Homo sapiens: one gene and its partners. The protein of the gene in region 2 interacts with the protein of the main gene of each other region in a pairwise test. Each region holds a gene or a part of one and is shown on either strand. Other genes may lie near its edges. The genes, in order: MUC1, ADIPOQ, SLC35H1, MRM1, FKBP7, SIGLEC12 and KEL.

Evidence for each region.
Region 1: the proteins of ADIPOQ (region 2) and MUC1 interact in binary tests that used the Homo sapiens proteins (3 or more experiments, as listed by UniProt).
Region 3: the proteins of ADIPOQ (region 2) and SLC35H1 interact in binary tests that used the Homo sapiens proteins (3 or more experiments, as listed by UniProt).
Region 4: the proteins of ADIPOQ (region 2) and MRM1 interact in binary tests that used the Homo sapiens proteins (3 or more experiments, as listed by UniProt).
Region 5: the proteins of ADIPOQ (region 2) and FKBP7 interact in binary tests that used the Homo sapiens proteins (3 or more experiments, as listed by UniProt).
Region 6: the proteins of ADIPOQ (region 2) and SIGLEC12 interact in binary tests that used the Homo sapiens proteins (3 or more experiments, as listed by UniProt).
Region 7: the proteins of ADIPOQ (region 2) and KEL interact in binary tests that used the Homo sapiens proteins (3 or more experiments, as listed by UniProt).

The regions. Positions count from the first base shown.
Region 1 is NC_000001.11:155,187,620-155,189,915, forward strand, and holds part of MUC1 (mucin-1 isoform 10 precursor), read right to left. Parts: coding exon of another isoform or gene 1,621-2,296; intron 1,316-1,620; coding exon of another isoform or gene 998-1,315; coding exon 544-997; intron 445-543; coding exon 389-444; intron 240-388; coding exon 103-239; intron 1-102. UniProt on the Homo sapiens protein: The alpha subunit has cell adhesive properties. Can act both as an adhesion and an anti-adhesion protein. May provide a protective layer on epithelial cells against bacterial and enzyme attack.
Region 2 is NC_000003.12:186,852,710-186,855,836, reverse strand, and holds part of ADIPOQ (adiponectin precursor), read right to left. Parts: exon of another isoform or gene 2,787-3,127; 5' UTR 2,779-2,786; coding exon 2,565-2,778; intron 2,060-2,564; exon of another isoform or gene 1,965-2,059; intron 1,705-1,964; exon of another isoform or gene 1,654-1,704; coding exon 1,133-1,653; 3' UTR 1-1,132. UniProt on the Homo sapiens protein: Important adipokine involved in the control of fat metabolism and insulin sensitivity, with direct anti-diabetic, anti-atherogenic and anti-inflammatory activities.
Region 3 is NC_000020.11:46,354,426-46,357,925, forward strand, and holds part of SLC35H1 (solute carrier family 35 member C2), read right to left. Parts: intron 3,349-3,500; coding exon 3,198-3,348; intron 2,213-3,197; coding exon 2,149-2,212; intron 1,450-2,148; coding exon 1,377-1,449; intron 817-1,376; coding exon 648-816; intron 541-647; coding exon 457-540; intron 1-456.
Region 4 is NC_000017.11:36,607,024-36,609,464, forward strand, and holds the end of MRM1 (rRNA methyltransferase 1, mitochondrial precursor), read left to right. Parts: intron 1-646; coding exon 647-779; intron 780-875; coding exon 876-995; intron 996-1,219; coding exon 1,220-1,392; 3' UTR 1,393-1,941; downstream 1,942-2,441. UniProt on the Homo sapiens protein: S-adenosyl-L-methionine-dependent 2'-O-ribose methyltransferase that catalyzes the formation of 2'-O-methylguanosine at position 1145 (Gm1145) in the 16S mitochondrial large subunit ribosomal RNA (mtLSU rRNA), a universally conserved modification in the peptidyl transferase domain of the mtLSU rRNA.
Region 5 is NC_000002.12:178,472,101-178,475,600, reverse strand, and holds part of FKBP7 (peptidyl-prolyl cis-trans isomerase FKBP7 isoform a precursor), read left to right. Parts: intron 1-1,633; exon of another isoform or gene 1,634-1,746; intron 1,747-2,458; exon of another isoform or gene 2,459-2,572; intron 2,573-3,500. UniProt on the Homo sapiens protein: PPIases accelerate the folding of proteins during protein synthesis.
Region 6 is NC_000019.10:51,499,001-51,503,265, forward strand, and holds the start of SIGLEC12 (sialic acid-binding Ig-like lectin 12 isoform a precursor), read right to left. Parts: upstream 2,801-4,265; 5' UTR 2,734-2,800; coding exon 2,307-2,733; intron 1,394-2,306; exon of another isoform or gene 1,374-1,393; coding exon of another isoform or gene 1,301-1,373; coding exon 920-1,300; intron 717-919; coding exon 438-716; intron 218-437; coding exon 170-217; intron 1-169. UniProt on the Homo sapiens protein: Putative adhesion molecule that mediates sialic-acid dependent binding to cells. The sialic acid recognition site may be masked by cis interactions with sialic acids on the same cell surface.
Region 7 is NC_000007.14:142,942,989-142,945,363, forward strand, and holds part of KEL (kell blood group glycoprotein), read right to left. Parts: intron 1,754-2,375; coding exon 1,655-1,753; intron 1,413-1,654; coding exon 1,335-1,412; intron 896-1,334; coding exon 795-895; intron 609-794; coding exon 498-608; intron 356-497; coding exon 288-355; intron 57-287; coding exon 1-56. UniProt on the Homo sapiens protein: Zinc endopeptidase with endothelin-3-converting enzyme activity. Cleaves EDN1, EDN2 and EDN3, with a marked preference for EDN3.

The DNA of each region.
Region 1 (2,296 bases), on a different chromosome or scaffold from region 2:
GCCCCTCCCGCTGCCAGCACTAAGGAAAGAGCGGGGACCCAGACACTGGAAGGAGAGGGGCCCCGGCATGGTGCTGGGCTGCAGCCAGGGAAGTAGCCTCACCGCTGACGTCTGAGATCGTCAGGTTATATCGAGAGGCTGCTTCCGTTTTATACTGATTGAACTGTGTCTCCACGTCGTGGACATTGATGGTACCTTCTCGGAAGGCCAGAGTCAATTGTACCACCACAGATCCTGGCCTGGTCACAGGGAAATGGGCACTTCAGCCACGGGTCCCAGCTCTGGCTCAGCACTCTTCCCCCAACCTTAAGTGCACCAGTCCCTCCCTACGGTCATGACCACCACCCACCCTCCAACCACCACACTGGGTCCACACCCAGAACTGTACCTGAACTTAATATTGGAGAGGCCCAGAAAACCCCCTTGTTTATAAATCTGCAAAAACTGGGGTGAGAGGGAAAGGACTCAGGCTTGATGCAAAGGGTGTGGACAGTTCTGATGGCTGCTTCAGGGGAGCATGGGGAAGGAAAGGCCGATACTCACCATTTCAGAAATGTCTCTCTGCAGCTCTTGGTAGTAGTCGGTGCTGGGATCTTCCAGAGAGGAATTAAACTGGAGGTTTGAAATGTGAAAAGACAGGAAAAAGAAAGAGACCCCAGTAGACAACTGGGGAGAAGTGCTGTGATTGGAGGAGGTGAGAGGAGGTACCGTGCTATGGTGAGTGCTACTGGCATCAGTCTTGGTGCTATGGCTGGCAAGGGTGGTAGGAGTATCAGAGTGGTGGCTGGGAATTGAGAATGGAGTGCTCTTGCTGGCTGGGGTTGTGGTAGCCCTGGCAGAGGTGCCGTTGTGCACCAGAGTAGAAGCTGAGCCTGATGCAGAGCCTGAGGCCGAGGTGACATTGTGGACTGGAGGGGCGGTGGAGCCCAAGGCGGGCCTGTTGTCCGGGGCCGAGGTGACACCATGGGCTGGGGGGGCGGTGGAGCCCGGGGCCGGCCTGGTGTCCGGGGCCGAGGTGACACCGTGGGCTGGGGGGGCGGTGGAGCCCGGGGCCGGGGTGGAGCCCGGGGCCCGCCTGGTGTCCGGGGCCGAGGTGACACCGTGGGCTGGGGGTGCGGTGGAGCCCGGGGCCGGCCTGGTGTCCGGGGCCGAGGTGACACCGTGGGCTGGGGGGGCGGTGGAGCCCGGGGCCGGCCTGGTGTCCGGGGCCGAGGTGACACCGTGGGCTGGGGGGGCGGTGGAGCCCGGTGCCGGCCTGGTGTCCGGGGCCGAGGTGACACCGTGGACTGGGGGGGCGGTGGAGCCCGGGGCCGGCCTGGTGTCCGGGGCCGAGGTGACACCGTGGGCTGGGGGGGCGGTGGAGCCCGGGGGCCGGCCTGGTGTCCGGTGCCGAGGTGACACCGTGGGCTGGGGGGGCGGTGGAGCCCGGAGCCGGTCTGTTGTCCGGGGCCGAGGTGACACCGTGTGCTGGAGTGTCGGTGGAGCCCGAGGCCGGCCTGGTGTCCGGGGCCGAGGTGACACTGTGAGCTGGGCTGCGGGCGCGGTGGAGCCCGGGGCCGGCCTGCTCTCTGTTTTAAATATACACCGTGGGCTGCGGGCGCGGTGGAGCCCGGGGACGGCCTGGTGTCCGGGGCCGAGGTGACACCGTGGGCTGGGGGGGCGGTGGAGCCCGGGGCCGGCCTGGTGTCCGGGGCCGAGGTGACACCGTGGGCTGGGGGGGCGGTGGAGCCCGGGGCCGGCCTGGTGTCCGGGGCCGAGGTGACACCGTGGGCTGGGGGGGCGGTGGAGCCCGGGGCCGGCCTGGTGTCCGGGGCCGAGGTGACACCGTGGGCTGGGGGGGCGGTGGAGCCCGGGGCCGGCCTGGTGTCCGGGGCCGAGGTGACACCGTGGGCTGGGGGGGCGGTGGAGCCCGGGGCCGGCCTGCTCTCCGGGGCCGAGGTGACACCGTGGGCTGCTCTCGCGGTGGAGCCCGGGGCCGGCCTGCTCTCCGGGGCCGAGGTGACACCGTGGGCTGGGGGGGCGGTGGAGCCCGGGGCCGGCCTGGTGTCCGGGGCCGAGGTGACACCGTGGGCTGGGGGGGCGGTGGAGCCCGGGGCCGGCCTGGTGTCCGGGGCCGAGGTGACACCGTGGGCTGGGGGGGCGGTGGAGCCCGGGGCCGGCCTGGTGTCCGGGGCCGAGGTGACACCGTGGGCTTGGGGGGCGGTGGAGCCCGGGGCCGGCCTGGTGTCCGGGGCCGAGGTGACACCGTGGGCTGCGGGCGCGGTGTAGCCCGGGGCGGGCCTTGTGTCCGGGGCCG
Region 2 (3,127 bases):
CCTGGGCAGTTGCCTCTAGCCTGGTGGGAGGTGTTCCTCACACCCAGGACTCTCATCCATGGCAAAATAAAAAGTGAGATATCGACTGGGCATGGTGGCTCATGCCTGTAATCCCAGCACTTTGGGAGGTCGAGGCGGGTGGATCACCTAGGCCAGGAGTTCGAGACCAGCCTGGCCAACATGACGAAACCCCATTTCTACTAAAAATACAAAAATTAGCCATGTGTGGTGGAATGCACCTGAAGTCTCAGCTACTCGGGAGGCTGAGGCACAATAATTGCTTGGACCCAGGAGAAGGAGGCTGCAGTGAGCCGAGGTCGTGTCACTGTACTCCAGCCTGGGTGACAGAGTGAGACTCCATCTCAAAAAAAAAAAAAGTGGATATCACATCAGAGAAGCTCCTGGCCAGGTGGCCTTGAGGAACAGGGATGAGTTCGGCACTTAGAGATGGAGTTGGCTTTCCCCGTTGGAGGGAAAGGCATGAGAAGGGACATAGGTAAGAGGAAGTAGAGTAGTGCAGGGGCCATTGAGTAGTAGTCCTTCCAAGACAGGACGTCATCATAGAACCACTTTCTCTGAGGAAGCTCTGCTTGGGGGAGGTTTTAATTCATGAGGAAGGCAAATTCAATGGCTCTCAGGTGAGGTGGGAAACAGACACCTACCAACACTCCAAAGAGAACATGTACCTCTATAAAAGGGCACAGTCTAGTGAACAAAGTCCACAGCTCTGGGTTTGATTTCTAGCACTGTCACTTAATACTGTGTGACCTTAGACATTCACTTAACTCTCTCAGCCTCAGGATACAATCTGTAAAAACAGGAGAATGCTTGTTCCCTGTGCCTTATAGGATTGATATGAGCATCAGGAGAGACAGTGGGCACAAAATAGCACTGTCAACTACTTCTTTCTAGTCAGTTATCTGGTCATGTTTGTGAAGCTCCCCAGGACTGGGAACATAGCATATGATTTTTTTAAAGTTACTCGATGAATGAATGAATAAATGAATGAGTAAATGAATGAATAATATCTAAAGGCCTCCAACTAAATAATAATCAACTTCCTAACCGTACTGAAAGCCTTTAATTGACTTTGGGGCTGTTTGGCCTGGAGGAGGCTCTGAGTTAGTGGTGATCAGTTGGTGTCATGGTAGAGAAGAAAGCCTGTGAAGGTGGAGTCATTGTCATTATCAGCATAGAGTCCATTACGCTCTCCTTCCCCATACACCTGGAGCCAGACTTGGTCGCCCACCTCCAGATGCAGGAGCACAGAGCCGGAGGCCTGGTCCACATTATTTTCCTGGTACTGATCATAGGTGAAGAGCATAGCCTTGTCCTTCTTGAAGAGGCTGACCTTCACATCCTTCATATAGACTGTGATGTGGTAGGCAAAGTAGTACAGCCCAGGAATGTTGCAGTGGAATTTACCAGTGGAGCCATCATAGTGGTTTTGCTGATTGTAGAAGATCTTGGTAAAGCGAATGGGCATGTTGGGGATAGTAACGTAAGTCTCCAATCCCACACTGAATGCTGAGCGGTATACATAGGCACCTTCTCCAGGTTCTCCTTTCCTGCCTTGGATTCCCGGAAAGCCTCGGGGACCTTCAGCCCCGGGTACTCCGGTTTCACCGATGTCTCCCTTAGGACCAATAAGACCTAAGGAATGAGAAGACCTCAGTGACTACAAAGAACAGAACTCCTGCCTAGGTTGGTTACAGCCTAAATTACCATCCCTGTGGCTCCCACTCACAACCTTCTTGACTTATAGATCAAGAAACCAATAAGAGCTCCCAAAAGGAGAGAGGTGTTACCTCCTCCTTCTATATCTCCCACAGACATGGAGGCTCCCATAATTTCAACTCTATCTTTATCTCCTATAGGTCTCTATCATAGACCCTCCACCCTGCCAGCCCTTTATGTGCTGGCACCATCAACCCTGGTTTTGCAATTCTACCCCCTCCATCTAGGATGTCTCTCCTCCTCTATTCTGCCTACCCATCATTCAAGGCCTAGCTGAAGCTCTGCCTCCTCCTTGAAGCCTTCATTCTTCATCAGGTCCACGGTGAGTATATTTTCTCTATGCTCCATACTTTGAATACTTGTTCACATTCAGTTTGACATTTTTAGAGTAGACTTTCTTGTAGTAACCACCAACAGAGCCTTGCACATTAGACATCTTACCTAGATCAAGAGTTCCCCAAAGGCAGGACTGAGCCTTTCAGGGGGTGTGCAGTAAATGTGGTTGAATGCCACTGGGTGAAATGGAAGTTAAGCAGACAGAAAGAGGAATCAGAATATGAATGTACTGGGAATAGGGATGAGGGTGAAGATGGGAAAGGGGATGGAAAAGGAGCTGCAGATGCAGCAAAGCCAAAGTCTTGGTTATAGAGGCACCATCTACACTCATCCTTGGAAGACCAACCCCAAATCACTTCAGGTTGCTTATGGTTAACATAAAAAAGCTTTGCTTTCTCCCTGTGTCTAGGCCTTAGTTAATAATGAATGCCTTCATATAGTTTATATCAGTGTAGGAGGTCTGTGATGAAAGAGGCCAGAAACATTCTTACCTGGATCTCCTTTCTCACCCTTCTCACCAGGGGTGCCATCTCTGCCATCACGGCCTGGGGCCCCATTATGGCCCGGATGCCCTGGGATGCCCGCCATCCAACCTGTGCAGGCCCCCTTGGGCAGGGGAAGCAGGACTCCGGGCCCTTGAGTCGTGGTTTCCTGGTCATGACCGGGCAGAGCTAATAGCAGTAGAACAGCTCCCAGCAACAGCATCCTGAGCCCTGGAATCCACATGTGCACTGTCAGCCATGGAGAGACAGACCCCACACACACACCCAGTTGGGACCTACAAAGGACTCCGTCCATCTCAGCAGAGTCTACTTCTAGGAGCTGCTTTCTAAGTATTCAACTTTTCCAGGAAGACTTTTCTGAATATTGCAGCCCACCTTGATCTCTTTCTGCCCTGAAATCTGTAATACTTAGCATTATTCCCTGTGTGTAGTCTCCTTTCCTCACCAAGATTATGAATTCAGTGATTGCACAGATGACACTCCTCTAATTTTCCCATGTCTGAGCACAGGACCAAGCACAGGGAAAGCTCCAAGAGTCGACTTGCCAAGAA
Region 3 (3,500 bases), on a different chromosome or scaffold from region 2:
CCTTAGAGGCAAGATAGGGTGGTTAAGAGTAGGGCTGGACCACTTGGAGCCAGGCTGCTGGCTTCAAATTCTGGCTCATTTACGAGCTATGGGACCTTGGGCAAGTTATCTTTACTTCTCTGGGCCTCATTTTGTTCTACCTGCAAAATGGGGGATAATAATAGTACTGCCACACCAGGTTTTTGGAAGGATGAAATGAGTTCCTATGTTTAAAAAGATCAGAACAGCCCTGGTGCACTTTCAGGGCTCTGTGCACACTTACTGTTACTGTTCCCTGAATTTTATATGTGCTTTCTCTGTAGCGTTTATCATGCTGGACCCCAAACCATGCGCTTCCAGGGGAGGGACTGCATCTTTGATCTCAATAATCTCTGCAGCTACCACTGTGTTGGGCTCAGGGCGAGGATCTGTGGTCTGCTGCACTGAGGTGCCCTTGAGAGGGAAGGCCCAACGTACCTTCAAATACAGCAAAGAGAGGGAAGAGCCCCAGGAACATGAGTGGCTGCAGGTGGAACATGGTGTCGATGGGATTCTGGAGGCCTGCAGGGCGGGGGACAGGCACCATCAGGTCTGGTCCGGCCCTGCCCTGCCTCCGCCCTGCCTGTGCCGGGGTTCCTCTCTCTGGAGGATGAGTGGCACGTGCTCACCGAGTTCAGCCTTCTGCAGGAGCATCTGGGTGAGGGTCCAGCGAATGCCACCGATGAACGAGGCCCCCAGCACCAAGGCGAAGCCCTCCACGTTGAACTGTGTGGACTTGTAGGTGAACATGAAGAGACCCCCGGCGATGAGGAGGACCACCAGGACCAGTGCCGCGCGCTGGTAGGATGGGGAGCAGTGGCAGCTAACTCGGGGGTCTTGAGGGTCAAGGGTTCATCACATTTGGAGCCTGGGGTCAGCAGCCATCTTGGCTGCCCCTGGGGCAAGAAATCCTTCCACCCTTCAGCTCCATCCCAGGGGGTCCTGGACAGTCCTTGCCCACCAATGTCAGCATGTAGGGCTGACGGTCAGCTGGTATGCCAACAGCCCTGCTTGCTCTGCCACACTGACGGCTGTCCTAGGCCCCCAAGTGGTCCCACCTCCTCCCTGGGCCTAACACACAGGGCTACTGCCTCCCACAGCAGGGTGCTTCCTAGACCCAGCTCTGCTGGGACCCTCATCCTGCAGTGCTTTCACCTTTGGTCATTACCCTGCCACACTGGTTTCTAAATATTCTGAGTATTGCCCATGTCTAGGTCCCTTCTCAGAAAGGGATCTACTGCCACCTGGACTGGGCTTGTCTCCTCTGTCACACAGCAGGACAAGCCACTGCTCAGACTCCCACTTTATTCTTAGCATCTGTGGGGGCAGGAAGGACACAAGAGACGCTGGGGCCTCACCAGCTCCTCCAGCTTGAAGATCAGAGAGAAGATCAAGATGAAGAGGACAGCTGAGGATTTGGTCATTGTGTACCTGGAAGCAAAATTACCCACAATGCACTGCTGGAGCTCAGGGCTCAGACCCATCACCGAGAAAGGAGCAGGAGCACAAATCACTGAGCGAAATGACCAAACAGAGCTGGGCTGTCATCTGAGTGATAAGCGACCTTTAATCAGAAGGAATCTCTGACTAAGAGGCCTCTGGTTATCACCAGAGAGAAGAGGTTACAGGTCTGACGTTGAGCTCCCTGAGTCCTGTTCTTTACCTAACCCTCGGCAGAGCCCAGGAGCGGGAAGGAAGGATGAGAAGTAGGAGGACAAGAAGGCAGGAACAGTGCTCTCTGAAGCAAAACATCAGAGGGAAGAAGAAACTCTTGTGTAGCCCCCAGGCCACATAGGGCTCTGCTGCGGCTGCGTGTACCACCCACCAGTGGCCACCTGTCTGTGGCCTTGCAGCCTGCCTTCCCCTGCTCTGATGATGGGGTTCTGGGAGAGCTCCCTGGCTTCCCCACGCTGCCTGGCAGGTGGGCACAGCATCTCCTCTGCGCTGGGCTTACGGAAGAGGCTGGCGACTTCCCGGAGAGCTGCTGGGTGCCAGGGAGAGGCTGAGAGAGCAAGGGCTGGTCCCAGAGTGGTGGAGTGGCTGGCCTAGCAGCCGGGTGTGCAGACACCCCGCTGGACAGACAGACAGCTTCAGCCTGAAGGGAGGCAGCAGGGCATGGCCAGTACTCACAGCGAGACGGTGACATACAGGAAGCTCCAGTTGGACAAGCCCACGTCAAGCGCCGTCGCCAGAGCTGTGAAGACACAGGCACCCACAGGACAGCTTGGGAGGTCCACACTCTGCTGGGGTGGGCTGGTACCCTGAGGCACCTGAGTGTCCCCCACTTCTGAACCATCCCGGTGCCTCCTGTGGGGCCCTTGGGCCTTCTTTTCCACCAGCAACTAAAGGGTTAATATCTGGCCCCCAAAGGTCGGGGGCTGCTCTAGCATTAGGGCTGGGGCCCATTCCAACTGGCTGGGCCGGTATGGTTTCCACAAACACTCCGGCGAGCCCCCTGAGCGGAGGTATTAACCTGATCTGGTTGATCCCTTACTGGAAACCCTTTTCCCTCAGGATGGAACACAAACTCCTCCACGGGGAATCCGGCCTCCAGGACATGACCCCTGCCCACCCTCTCAGTTCTCATTTTTCCCACTTCCTCTGGCCAGCACCGGGTTCTCAGTATCCTGAAACACTTTGAGTTCCCTTCCAGACCCCACAGCTGGCACTAAATCTCCCTCGGGCCACGAGGGCCCCTCCTCCCAGGGCCAACCAGTCCCACGCATCCTTCAGGGCTCTGCCTACTTGGCACCTGGCCTAGGAAATCTTCCTCTACCAGCCATGGGCCCCGGCCTTGGGTTGGTCCCCTCCCTGGGCTCCGTAGTGCCCTCCATGTCCGTGTCACAGCCCTGCGAGGGCAGGGACCCTGCCTGCTCACCACTTATCTCCAGGCCTGAGGGCTGCACTCCAGGCTCGGTGTCTGCTGGCAGGAGAGGGAGCTGCGGGGCCGCAGGTGCAGGGGGGGTTTTGTGGGTGTGTGGTGGGGCAGTGGGAAGGCACGCAGTGCACAAGAGGCAGCAGCGTGGGTGGTGGGAGGCCAGGTCAAGAGGGCAGAGGAGGAACAGTGCAGGAAGAGGGGAGGGACTTGGCTTCCAGACATGCGGGTGTCTCTCTTGTTCTCATCCTATGGTTCCCCAGCCCCTCTTCCTGCTCTGCCCTCACTGAGGTCCCCCACCTACCTGTGGGAGCCACTCTTCTGAGGTAGTCGGCCCAGCTCAGCACCACACGGGCCCTGTGGCTGGAGCACTGAACCAGCGCCCTGGACAGGGCGGAGAAGAGGAAGATCACGGCCAGGTGCAGCATCGTCATGAAGAGGGGGAAATGGAAGCTCTGTATGGAGCCCAAAGCAGACACCCCGGCTTGGTTTAGACAGCCTGCCCCCCACCGGCTCCCTCTTCCTCTTCGCCCCTCTGCTGGAGTGGGGCTCATTCGGTGGTTCATGAGGACCTTGCTATGTGTGTAGGGCCCTTAGTTACGGTATC
Region 4 (2,441 bases), on a different chromosome or scaffold from region 2:
CCTGCCTCAGCCTCCTGAGTAGCTGGGATTACAGGCATGCACCACCATGCCCGGCTAATTTTGTATTTTTAGTAGAGACGGGGTTTCTCCATGTTGTTCAGACTGGTCTCGAACTCCCAACCTCAGGTGATCCCCCTGCCTTGGCCTCCCAAAGTGCTGGGGATTACAGGCGTGAGCCACCGTGCCTGGGCCAGGCTAGTTTTGAACTCCTGACCTCAGGTAATCTGCCTGCTTCAGCCTCCCAAAGTGCTGGAATTACAGGCTTGAGCCACTGCATACAGCCTCTGATGAAGATTTGATGAATTAGAATAGGAGAGGCAGGCATGGTGGCTGACGCTTGTAATCCTAGCACTCTGGGAGGCCAAGGTGGGAGGATCGCTTGAAGCCAGGAGTTCCAGACCAACCAGGGCAACATGGCAAAACCTCATCTCAAAAAAAAAAATGCAAAAACTAGCCGGGTGGGGTGGCGAGTGCCTGTAGTCCCAGCTACTTGGGAGGCTGAGGTGGGAGGATCACCAGAACCCAGGCGGTTGAGGCTGCGGTGAGCTGTGATCGTGCCACTGCACTCCAGCCTGAGCGAGAGTAAGACCCTATCTCAAAATTAAAATAAAAAAAGAATTAGAACATATCTTCTTCCCCCTTTCAGACCAAAGCCCAGCAGGGCTGGCTCGTGGCCGGCACGGTGGGCTGCCCAAGCACAGAGGATCCCCAGTCCTCCGAGATCCCCATCATGAGTTGCTTGGAGTTCCTCTGGGAACGGCCTACTCTCCTTGTGCTGGGTAGGTGGATGTCCCTGCGTTTGTGCCCAGATTACATTTCCCGAGCAACTGGGTGTCCAGCTGGGCAACCCTAACCCTCAGCCCCACGCCCTGCAGGGAATGAGGGCTCAGGTCTATCCCAGGAGGTGCAGGCCTCCTGCCAGCTTCTCCTCACCATCCTGCCCCGGCGCCAGCTGCCTCCTGGACTTGAGTCCTTGAACGTCTCTGTGGCTGCAGGTGAGTCTACTCCCCTTTCCCTTTCCTCTATCCCTCTAATCACGCAGGTGGGATTTGATGCCCTCTAATCCCATTTGCTGGCTGTTTGTGTGCCTCAGTTGCTTTATGTACAAAATGGGGAAATTACATCCCGTTGATGAGATGAGGGGCTGCCTGAATGTCTAGGTCTCTAAACATCATCCTTCTCCTCCGTCCTCTCTTCCCTTGTCCTTGTGTCTGTGCAGGAATTCTTCTTCACTCCATTTGCAGCCAGAGGAAGGGTTTCCCCACAGAGGGGGAGAGAAGGCAGCTTCTCCAAGACCCCCAAGAACCCTCAGCCAGGTCTGAAGGGCTCAGCATGGCTCAGCACCCAGGGCTGTCTTCAGGCCCAGAGAAAGAGAGGCAAAATGAGGGCTGACGTGGACTGTCCACAGTGTTCATGTGCTGGAGTCAGGGACGGCCGCACCTGCCTCCGCCGGCTCCAGTGTGCGGGGAGCCTCTGCCTGAGTGTGCACCAGGCCCATGTTTATTGACCACAGTCTGGGGGGGGGGGAAGGGGACTGCGGTGGACACCAGAGGAAGCTGTTTCCTGTTGTGATGTTGGACCTGTAGTAGGACATGGTGATTTGTTAATTTCCATGGGAAGCCATGATGGCCTAGCATGGAGGGAATCTGTTCCCAGGCCCTGCCTGGAAGTTGAGGGAAAGTTTAGACATCTGCAGAGAGGCAGGCAGCCCAGCCCAGGGGACCCGTTCCTCTTGAACCAGTCATTGCCTGTGGCAAATGTGTGTATGAGAATGTGGGGGGTGGAGGGCGGGGCCCTGATGTGGAGTAGACAGTGCGCACCTCAGGCCCACACACGGCCCCGCCCTGGGGCCTTGAGCGCAGGCCTCATCTTTCTGTGCCGCGGGACTCCGCACCTACCTCACAGGGTTGTTGTGAGGCTCAAATAAAACATCACTCAGCACGTGGGAGATTCTGGCCAATTCCTCCGTTAGGTGGCAGCCTCGCTCTTCGGTCCAGTCTTCAGGCAGCTTCCACAGCCTCCTTGCGGGGAGACTCCTGGCTGCAGCCCCATGAGAGGCGACGGGAAATTAGCAAACACCTCCCACCCCACGGGGGCCCCCCACGGGTGACTGAGTCAGTTCCCTTCAAGGGGAGGAACTGGGAGCAGGCTTGCCGTTGATTGTACAACCGAGACAGATTTGGCACTCCTCCCCTCGGGTCCCAGGAAAGCAGCAGGAGCCAGCAGTGTGAGGAGCATAGAAGTGTTTCTGTCCTGGTGGCACATTGGAACCACCTGGCATGCTTTAAAAAACCCAACACTGACACCAGAGAGTCTGACATGATGGGTGTGGCGCCACCTGGCATCCGGCTTTCGAAAGCGCCACCATTGGTCTAATGTGCAGCCAAGGCTGAGAATCACCACTAGGGCAGGTGGACTCAAATTCCACACCCTTGACATTT
Region 5 (3,500 bases), on a different chromosome or scaffold from region 2:
AACCAGCATTATTGCTGGGAATGGAAATCATTCAACTTCTCTATCAACTGTTATCAAAAGTGAAAATGCAGGCCCGGGTGTGGTGGCTCATGCCTGTAATTCCAGCACTTTGGGAGGCTGAAGTGGGCAGATCACTTCAGGTCAGGAGTTCGAGACCAGTCTGGCCAATATGGTGAAACCCCGTCTCCACTAAAAATACAAAAATTAGCTGGGTGTGGTAGAGTGTGCCTGTAATCCCAGCTACTTGGGAGGCTGAGGCAGGAGAATCGCTCGAACCTGGGAGGCAGAGGTTGCAGTGAGCCAAGATTGCGCCACTGCACTCCAGCCTGGGCAACAGAGCGAGACTCCATCTCAAAAAAAAAAGTGAAAATGCACGTGCCTTCTTATCCAATAGTTCCATTTCCAGGAATGTGCACAAAGGTATATGTAAAAGAACATTCACTGCAGGCATTTTTGGGTGGGAGGGTGGCAAAAGGTTGGAAACCACCTGCCTATCCATCAATAGGAAATTAGTTAAATAAATTATAGTATATCTATACAATGAATTACTGTGTAACCAGTAAAAAGAATGAAGTAGAGCTATACTTATTAATATGTTAAAAATAAAGTGGAGGCCAGGCATGGTGGCTTCATGCCTATAATCCCAGCACTTTGAGAGGCTAAGGTGGGAGGATCACTTGAGCCCAGGAGTCTGAAAGCAGCCTGGGCAATGTAGGGAGACACAATCTCTACAGAAAATTAAAAAGTTAGCCAGGCGTGGCGGTATCCGCCTGTGGTCCCAACTACTCAGGGGGCTGAGATGGGAGGATCCCTGGAGCCTGGGAGGTCGAGGCTGCGGTGAGCTGTGATTGTGCCACTGCACTCCAATCTGGGCAACACAGCAAGACCCTGGCTCAAAAAAAAAAGTGGACAAGACTATATTCCACTTTTGGGATATATATTGAGCATCAGTGCCAGGCTTTGTTCTAGGCACTGGGCATAAAGCAGTGACCAAAGTAGACACTACTCCCAATCCTCTATGAGCTTTCATTTCAGAGGAGGAGTTTCACATATGCATGTATCTACACAGAATACATCTGGAAGAATATGCAGTCATCTGATGACATTAAGTGTTCCTGGGAAGGAGGCCTCAGGGTCAAGGATGAGAAGATTTCTTTTCACTCTAACATTTTGTACCATTTGAAAGTTTTATAAGGCATGTATTAATTTTTCCAAAATTAAAATTTTAAATTACAAAAATTGCATGTAGCAGAACAGAGAAGAAAATTTTTAAAGCAGGCAGGAGGATGGGCAGCCTGATAGGCTGTACCTTGCATCCTTAGTTAGGTTCTTGCTCCGTGTTGCTGCTTGAAGGCTATACAGAAAGAATCTTTGCCTCCTTACCCTATTTAGAGCCACTGCTGACTCCACCGGTTTGAAATAGTAAAGATTAATTTTCCACAATGAGATATTGGCATTGCTCCCAAATATTTCATGGAAGTGGCATGCCTTCTTTGAGGCAGTTGTCTTAGTCATTAAGAGTTCTTTCCAGCAAAATCGGGGCATCAGTGCCCCACACTGGATTGGCGGGTGGTGGGGGGGTGTCAGTGCTTTGAGTCAGACCCAGTCAGGCTTAAAACTCCTAAAGAGACAATTTCCAGATAACTTCAGCTTTATTTTTAATGCTTTTTGCCAATAATTTGATCCCATCAGAACAGCTCCCATGGTACCATAATTCATATATCCTGTTTTTATTTGTATAGGAACCTAGGAGAAAGAGAAGGAAAATTGAAAATAAATTAAGTCAAATGCAATACTTGTGCTAAAAATGTTGTCAAAAGTTGAGGCCACTTCTAGGCAAAATGTTGGAGGCAGAGTTTGCCTTTCAGTCTCTTTCTCATTTTCAAAGTTTTCCTTTCTGTCTTGCGTTGTGTCTTCAGATGCCTCCACATTCTGCCTACCACTAGAGCACCCACTCTCCTATCTGCCTAGAGCACACACATCTGTCATCATCAGGTGCTCATCCAGGGTTCACCGCCATCAGGCAAAGGACCACTTAGCTTATCTTTTTCATAAACTAATTTATGCTTAGATATGAATGACTACCCAGGCTGCCTAAGCTCTTAATAAATCAGAAACTTGCTGCAGAGATATAGAAGTTTGATGTGAAACAAGTTCATATTCAATTGGAGGTATCTCTAACAAACATTAAAGTGATTAATCTCACTAGTAATACCACCAGCACCCTCATTTTACAGAGTAAGAAACTGAGGCCCAAAAAAAGTGTTAATTGGACCATAGTTAATACTGACCTTGCCTGCGTTACATTAGGCATTGTAATCCAATACCTTGGATTACATTATTTTAAAAGTTGCAGTGTAGACCTTAAGTAACTGTTTAACAAACAACCTCTTGATTAAATAAGCATTTAAAAGTAAGTTGTTATTAAGACCTAACATTAGCTATAACTTTATTTTAGGTAGTACTTGAAGAAGTCTTTCTTCTGCAAAATATCCTTGTCTCATGTCACAGAACAACCCTGCATGTCTTGAAATGCATGTGACTTGTTAGTGCTTAAATAACAATACATGCGGTATGTATATATTCTTTACCTTAATTCCTACTTCTTTGATCTGCTTCTCTAAATATAAGTAATTCCGTAGCAAATGCATATTTTCCTCATTTTTATACTTTAGTTTTTTTTAAAAAAAAAAAAAAAACAAGAAAAAGAGGTAATTGGCAATATATCCTTTTTTTTTTTTTTTTTTTTGAGATGGAGTCTTGCTCTGTCACCCAGATTGGAGCGCAGTGGTGTGATTGATCTTGGCTCACTGCAGCCTCTGCCTCCCGGGTTCAAGCTATTCTCCTGCCTCAGCCTCCGAGGAGCTGGGATTACAGGCACACGCCACCATGCCTGGCTAATTTTTGTATTTTTAGTAGAGATGGGGTTTCGCCATGTTGGCCAGGCTGGTCTCGAACTCCTGGCCAGCCAGGCTGATCTCGCCCTCCTGGCCAGGCGCAGTGGTATAAGCCAAATAAGAATTGCTTGAACCTGGGAGGCAGAGGTTACAGTGAGCCGAGATCGCGCCATTGCACTCTAGCCTGGGTGACAGAGGAAGATTCTTGTCTAAAAAAAAAAAGTGGTATAAGCCACTGCGCCCGGCCAATATTTTCTATGTTTATAGCAAAATTGTTCAAAAACTGCATATGTACCTACAATATTTTTTCTTAAGAAATTCAAGTTTTGGGCTGGGCACAGTGGCGTATAGCTGTAATCCTAGCACTTTGGGAGGCCGAGGTGGGTGGCTCACCTGAGGCTAGGAGTTCAAGACCAGCCTGGCCAACATAGTGAAACCCCGTATCTACTAAAAATACAAAAAATAGCTGGGTGTGGTGGCTTGTGCCTGTAATCCCAGCTACTTGGGAGGCTGAAACACAAGAATCACTTGAACTCGGGAGGTGGAGGTTGCAGTGAGCCAAGATCGCGACACTGCACTACAGCCTGGGCAACAGAACAGATT
Region 6 (4,265 bases), on a different chromosome or scaffold from region 2:
GAGTGAAGGGGTGATGAGAAGGTGCTCAGGTGGCCAAAAGGCTGAGGCTGAGGGAGGGGGGGGCCGGGGCTCACCCACAAAAGGGTCTCAGGTCACCAGGGTGAGTCCTGGCTCTCCCCTGAGTTGAAGGCTCTGCTCCTCCAGCCCCAGGGAGAGGACTCCATCTTACCTGTGCCATCTCCTTGGAAGACAGTCATGGTCAAGTTCTGAGGAGGATCTGGAACAGAAAGACACGGAGTTCCCATCACTTTGAGGACTGGGGACACTGACCCTGTCTCCCCAGGAGCCCCATAAATGGGGAAGGTGGAGCCAGCATCCTCCTGACCCCCAACTCCCAGCCAAGATTCCAGGACCCAGATCCTTGAGTCTGGGTCCCACATCCAACTGGCCTCAAGGAATCCCGATCAAAGACCCAGACGTCCTGGCCCAGAACTCACAGGATATGTTGAGTCGGACAGCCCTGGTCATGGTCACGCCGGCCCCAGGCAAGGTCACCTGACAGGTGAGGCTGGTGCCATGGTCCTGGGGCTGTGGGATGAGGCTGAGCATCGAGGAGCGAGTGATAGTGGGGTCCAGGGAGGACACGGAGGCCCCCATCCAGGTGATCGTGGGGGGCGTCCCCTGTTCACAGGCCCAGGGCACAGAGCAGGTCAGGTTCCTGGGGTGGCCAGACTCCAGGGTCCCCGGGATGGAGAAGGTGGGCATGTGAGTCAGGGCTGGTGATGAAAGGGAGACAGGCAAAATGAGGGTGTTGGGGTCTGAAGTGTGGTGCTGAGGAGGCTCAGGCTCTGGTCTTACTCCTCCCCTGAGCCAGATATGCTTCACCTCCAACTCCCTCCCAGGATGGGGGTCCCACCTCAGCCCTACCCTGCGGCCCTCGGGCCTTCCCCTCTGGCTGGTCCTAGAGCCAGAGATTTACCTGTCACATGCACAGAGAGCTTGTCATATATGTAGTTCCATTTCCTGCTTCCTCTCTCCACCTGGAAGTAGTACTTCCCTGAATCCCCCTTCCTGGCATCTCTGATGCTCAGGGAGCAGTTGTTGGTCTGTGGGTCCCCAAGGAGGAGGAATCGACCGTGGGTATCCTCTTGCACTTTTCCACTTGGGGTGTTTGTGGCCACTGGAATATCCCATGGTATATCGGCCCCTTCCTTGAACCAGGATCCATAAACAGGGCTAGAGGCAGTCCAGTTGTAATGGGGGTAAAGGACACTGCAGGGCACAGAGACACACAGACCCTCCTGCACAGTCACCGACTCTGGCACCTCCAGCCTGTATCTTGACAGTAGGTCCTGGGACGCTGTGGAGAAACGAGGGTCAGCCCAGCCCCCACTGTCCCTCTCTTCATTTGCCCATAGCAGGGGCAGCAGCATCTCTGAGGCAGAGGCTTCCTGGGCTCCCTGTGTGAGCAGAGAAGGGGGAGGGAGAGGAGGGGCAGGGCTGTGGGACCCACAGGGGGCTGGAGAGGAGCTGGAGACCTCAGCCCTGCATGGAAGAGAAACTGCAAACCCACATGCTATAGGAACTCATTCCCTCTGCACAGAGTGAAGGAAACCCTAAAGCTCAGAGACCCTAGAGACCCACCCAGGGAGGAGAAGAGACCGTGTCCCGCCTCCTACCTCCGGGCTTCCCTGAAGCACCAGGGCCTGCACCAGACACGTAGGTCCTGCCCTCCCGGCCTCTGGACCATCGTGGAGGTCCCTCCTGTCTTTTGAGCATCTAAATGTGGATCTCCGAGGACCTCGGGGCATGAGAGATGGAGGGGCCGTGTGCTGAGTCTCCCTGTCCAGGCTCAGGTGCCTCTGCTGCCCTTGGTTTGCGCCAGGAAGTGCTTCCTCCCTGGCCTGGCCTGAGAGAGTCACGGGGTTGTGTAGACCTAAGGCTCTCAACTGGGGAGGACTTAACCCCCCAGGACGTTTGACAATGTGTGGAGATAATTGTCTCGCTGCATGGGTGGGGTGGGTGCTTCTGGCATCTGGTGGGGAGAGGCCTGGGATGGTGCTAAACCCCGGCCATGCCTAGGACAGGCCCCAAAACAAGGAGTCATAAGGCCCCACATGCCACAGTGCCAGCGTCAGAGGCAGGATGAGGATGTCAGGCCTGTGGGTCAGGGCTGGTGAGGGGAGGGGCTTGCAGGATCAGGAGGGGCATCCAAGGTGCGGTCCTGGGGAAGCTCAGGCTCTGGTCCAGCTCCTCCCCTGAGTCCATCACCCCCGGCCCCCTCCCAGGACATGTGTCCCGTCTCAGCCGTGCCCTAAAGCCCTCATCACATTTGCCTTTGGCCTCTCTTGGAGCCCGTGCCTTACCTGTCACATTCACAGAGAGCTGGTCATATTTATAATTCCATTTCATATTTCCTCTCTCTACACAAAAGACGTATGTCCCTGCATCACTCTCTCTGGTGTCTCTGATGCTCAGGGTACAATCCTTGTTCTGTGGGTCCCCAAGGAGGTGGAATCGGTCCCGAGTCTCCTCCTGCACTGCTCGAGCTGGGTTGTTTGTGGCCACTGGAATGTTCCGGCTTACATGGTCCCCTGCCCGGAACCAGTAGCCATGAACTGGATCGGAGGCAGTCCAGCCATTTTGGGGGTAGGAGAAGGAGCAAAGCACAGAGACACACAGGCCCTCCTGCACCGTCACGGACTTCTGCATTGTCAGCAGGTAATCCTTCTGTTCCTTAGCCCCCACTCTCCCACAGAGCAGGGGTGGCAGCAGTAGCAGCAGCAGTAGCATGTGTCGGGTTGGAGGTGCCAGGGTTGCTGAGGTAAGTCTGTTCCTCAGGGTTCTTCTCTCAGGAACTGAGAACTCAAGATTTCGAGGAAGCCGCACAGGAAGTTGGGGGTGGGTTCTGAACGGTGACCTCACAGGAGGAACTTCACACACAGACACTGTCAGGGCCGGGTCACCCCTGGAAGATCCACCGTCCACTACCCCGTCCACTCCTGGGGACCCTGAGGCCAGAGAGGATGAAAGACTCACCCAGATTCCAACCCCATGCAGGGCCCACCCCGCCCACTGCCTCCCTCTCAGTGCCCTTCCCCTTGGGTGATATTTTCCATAAGGTGAAAATGAGTCCCATGTGGCCAGACCTATGAAGTACAGGCTGTGGATGTCTCTCTGTAGGTCAGAGGTGACACTAGGATATAAGAGATGGGGGTGCAGGTGGGATGAGCAGGCAACCTCTCCTTCCTCCCTCAGCGGCCGTGAGGTGGAGTTCAACACAGCAGAGCTAGACACTGTCCCCAAAGAGTCACTGTGTAGTGGGGAGACACTGAGGCTCCTGATATCTGAGCTCTCCATGGCAGGAGCTTCAGTGGGGGTACCAGGCAGGGTGTGGTCGCTCTCTCCTATGTTGGGGAATCAGTCTCGGGAGGACTGAGCAGAGAGACACGGGGTCGTGGAGGTGAGGATTCCGTGTGTTGATACACACCAAAGACACAGAGAAGAGCCCAGTTCACAGGAGGCCTGAGAAGCTAAGGCTGTGACTGTTGTACAGTGAGGTCTGGAAGGGAGGAATGTTGGATGGGAAGGGACAGATTTCTAAAGGGGCAGGCGTTTCTCTCTCGGCCATGGCTCTCTGGGTTCAGGATGGGATCCTTCACCACTGCTCTCTCACAAGTCCTCCTTACTCCAGAGCATGAGGGGTCTGCTGGCCCTTTGTTCCTGCAGGCTCTGCTCCCAGGGTTTCAGGTGAACAGGAGACGTGGAGCGAGGACACCAGCCCTGGCGTGTCCACGCTCAATGATGGACAGGATTTCATGGGAGAAGAAATGCACCTGAATTCAGCAGAAGAGTTTTTGAAACTGTATGCTATGTACTGGGAGGAAGGTGGGGAAAATCCTGCAAGATTCGCCCTCCTTAGACCCATGTCAGCTTTTCTTGAAACAATGATTTTTGGGGAAATGTAATACAAGTAAATAAAAGTGCCACCTAAAAAAATGACTCAGTGATTTTCACCAAATTATCACTGTTCAAGAAATAGAACATCACAAGATAATTGCCAAATTTCTCCCATGAGATGAAGAAAGAAATTGCATTCATTTATTCAGCCCTGTGTTTCCCCTTCCTATAGGCCACATGCAGTTCCTCCTGAAGATGCCCCAGCCTCACTTTAATGATAATGGTCTCCTTGCTTTTCTATGTAGTTTTATCATCTGAGTGCACTGCCTTCAATACTATGGCTTTGCATAGGTTTTTCTAAAGACTATTTTTACATAAAAACCACAATCTGTTTTATTTTACTCAGCTCCATGGATCTTCCCATC
Region 7 (2,375 bases), on a different chromosome or scaffold from region 2:
CAGGTGAGCTTCCTGGAGGGCATGGTTGTCACAGGCGAGGCAGCCCCCAGGCAGTACTGTTGAAAATGGGACAAGAGAACATACAGCAAGAGAACATAGGGTTGGTGCTGCCTAGGTGAGGATGTGGGTGGTACCACAGACTGAATCAGCTCCCAGGAGCATGGCAAAGTTCCCAGGACTGCCCCACCTCAAACCCTCAAATAACCTCCCTTTCCCCTCCAGGCCTCCCTTGTGGTCTTCCCTTAGGTTCCCTATTATCCCACCTCCCAGTGGCCCCTGTTACCCACAGAGCTGGTAGAAGATGTGCAACAGCTCGTGGGCCATGATGCTGCCAGCAGCGCCAAAGTTCACGGCTCTAGGGAGACAAGGGCTTATTTGACCCCCAGAATCTCTCAGCATTTGTGACCCCAATTCTCCAACCGTAAGTCCCATCCATCATAACACCTGTCGGCCCCTCTTGGGAAACTCCCTACCTACCCTTACAGAGTGACCCATACCTGGGATAGCCAGGGTGGAAGAATGGGGGTTGGAGGAGTCCAGCTGGAAAGACTACCACATGGTCAGATACCGAATAGTAAGCATTGACGTCCCAAGGGGACACCTTCCACCTGTGGGAAGAGGACATGTGAACTCCAGCCCCCACCACGTATTGCCCTGCCACCCTGAGACCTACACAGTCCCTCCCAACTACCATTACTGTTCATGCTGCCTGCCCTGAGCCCTGGCTTCCTTTCCTGTGAATCATGGATGGGTCTCTCTGGGATGGAGTGCCTGTGTCTCCCCTGCTGTCATACCTGTGTTGGGGGTGAGGCTGCAAGAAGCTCTGGACAATTCTAGCTCGGAGGGACCGGACACAGCTCAGGACAGACTGCAGGAAGCTCGATCCAAGCTGTATCTGGGGAAGAGGCAGGAGGTGACTTGGGCACACAGAGACTTCTATAGATGCACGCTGACAAACACCAATGGGACCATTTGACCCCAAACAGGCAAGCCCTGACAGGCAGGCATCCAGGGATTAGGAGAGAGCAGCCCAATGGCATCACTACACAGCACACCCAGGCTTTACACATATCAGCACACAGATGAACACGCCCAGACAAGTCACAGGATGCATGCATGTGTGTTGGCACATGCGTTGGGACCTGAAAAGATTCTGTTCTTCTGCCAGCAAGACGTACAGTGTGGATATTTCCCCATCAACCCCAGCCAGCACCAGAGTAAGGACAGAGCTAAGTCACCCAGGGAAAACTGATTGTCCAACAAAGACTTAGGAGGGTCAGAGAAGTGACGAGAAGTCAAGGACTGAAAAGGAGCTGGAAAACACAGGGACCCACATCGTTGTATTCTTGTCGGGCCAGCTCTGGCTTCAGGGCCCATTCTGAAGCCCCCATCTCCACCTGCAGTTGAGCAACCTGGAGAGAGACACAGAAGAGGCTAGGAATACTCTCCGAGTCTACCAGAGGAAATTTCTCCCACTCGTTGCCCTGTCCCAGCCTCTCACATTGTTGCCAGTGTGAGTATACAGCCCAGTGGCTTCCCTACTTAGCATGTGCCTGGGGGGGCCTTTGGCATTTGCTTCCAATCCCCATCTCGCTTGTTCCAATACTCCATTCCCTGCACAGGCTCCCACACCAGCCAGGACGCCTGGCCTGACCTTGTCCTGGGCCATGTTCTGGGTCTCCTCATTCATCCAGGGAAGGTTTCTGAGGCGAGTGATGAGGGCATCCCGGATCGCAGTGAATAATTTCATGGCCTGTGGGAGTGAGGTCCAGGGACAGGGGGACAGGATCAGGAGAGGCCTCAGCCTGGCCCTGCCCACAGCTTCTGACCCTTGGAAAAGGGCTTGGCCCCAAGGAGCTGCCTGGGCTGGAGCTGCTGCTAGAGGAGCAGCTCAACTAAAGCAACTAAAGGATCTGTGGAGAAAGGAAGGCAGTGCCAAGCCCACAAAGGGAAGGTGGGGCCTGGCCATCCGTGAGGGCCATCAGGGAGATATAGTTCCTTTCCATGGGGAAATAGCCTGACACAGGAGAAAGACAGTGTCCTCACTCCTGGGGGCAGGAACACCTCTCAGAAATCAGAGGGAGGAGAGGGCTGTCATTTTCTCCTCTGGCTCAGGGCTCTTGTTCTCACACTGTCTTTTTTAAACCGTCCACTCCCTCTCCTCATCCTCCTGAGCTCTTCAGCTTCCCAGCAAGTCCCCCACAAGTCTCCCTGCCTTCACAACGTGAGTGTGTACTCACTGCTTCCCCAGCCACCTGCCATCTCATGTAAATCCTTTCCTGGAGGAAAATGAAAGGCAATATCGAGAGCCTGGGCTCTGGCATCAGAATGCCTGAGTTCAAACCCTGTCTCTGCTTTTTGGTAACTGTGTGACT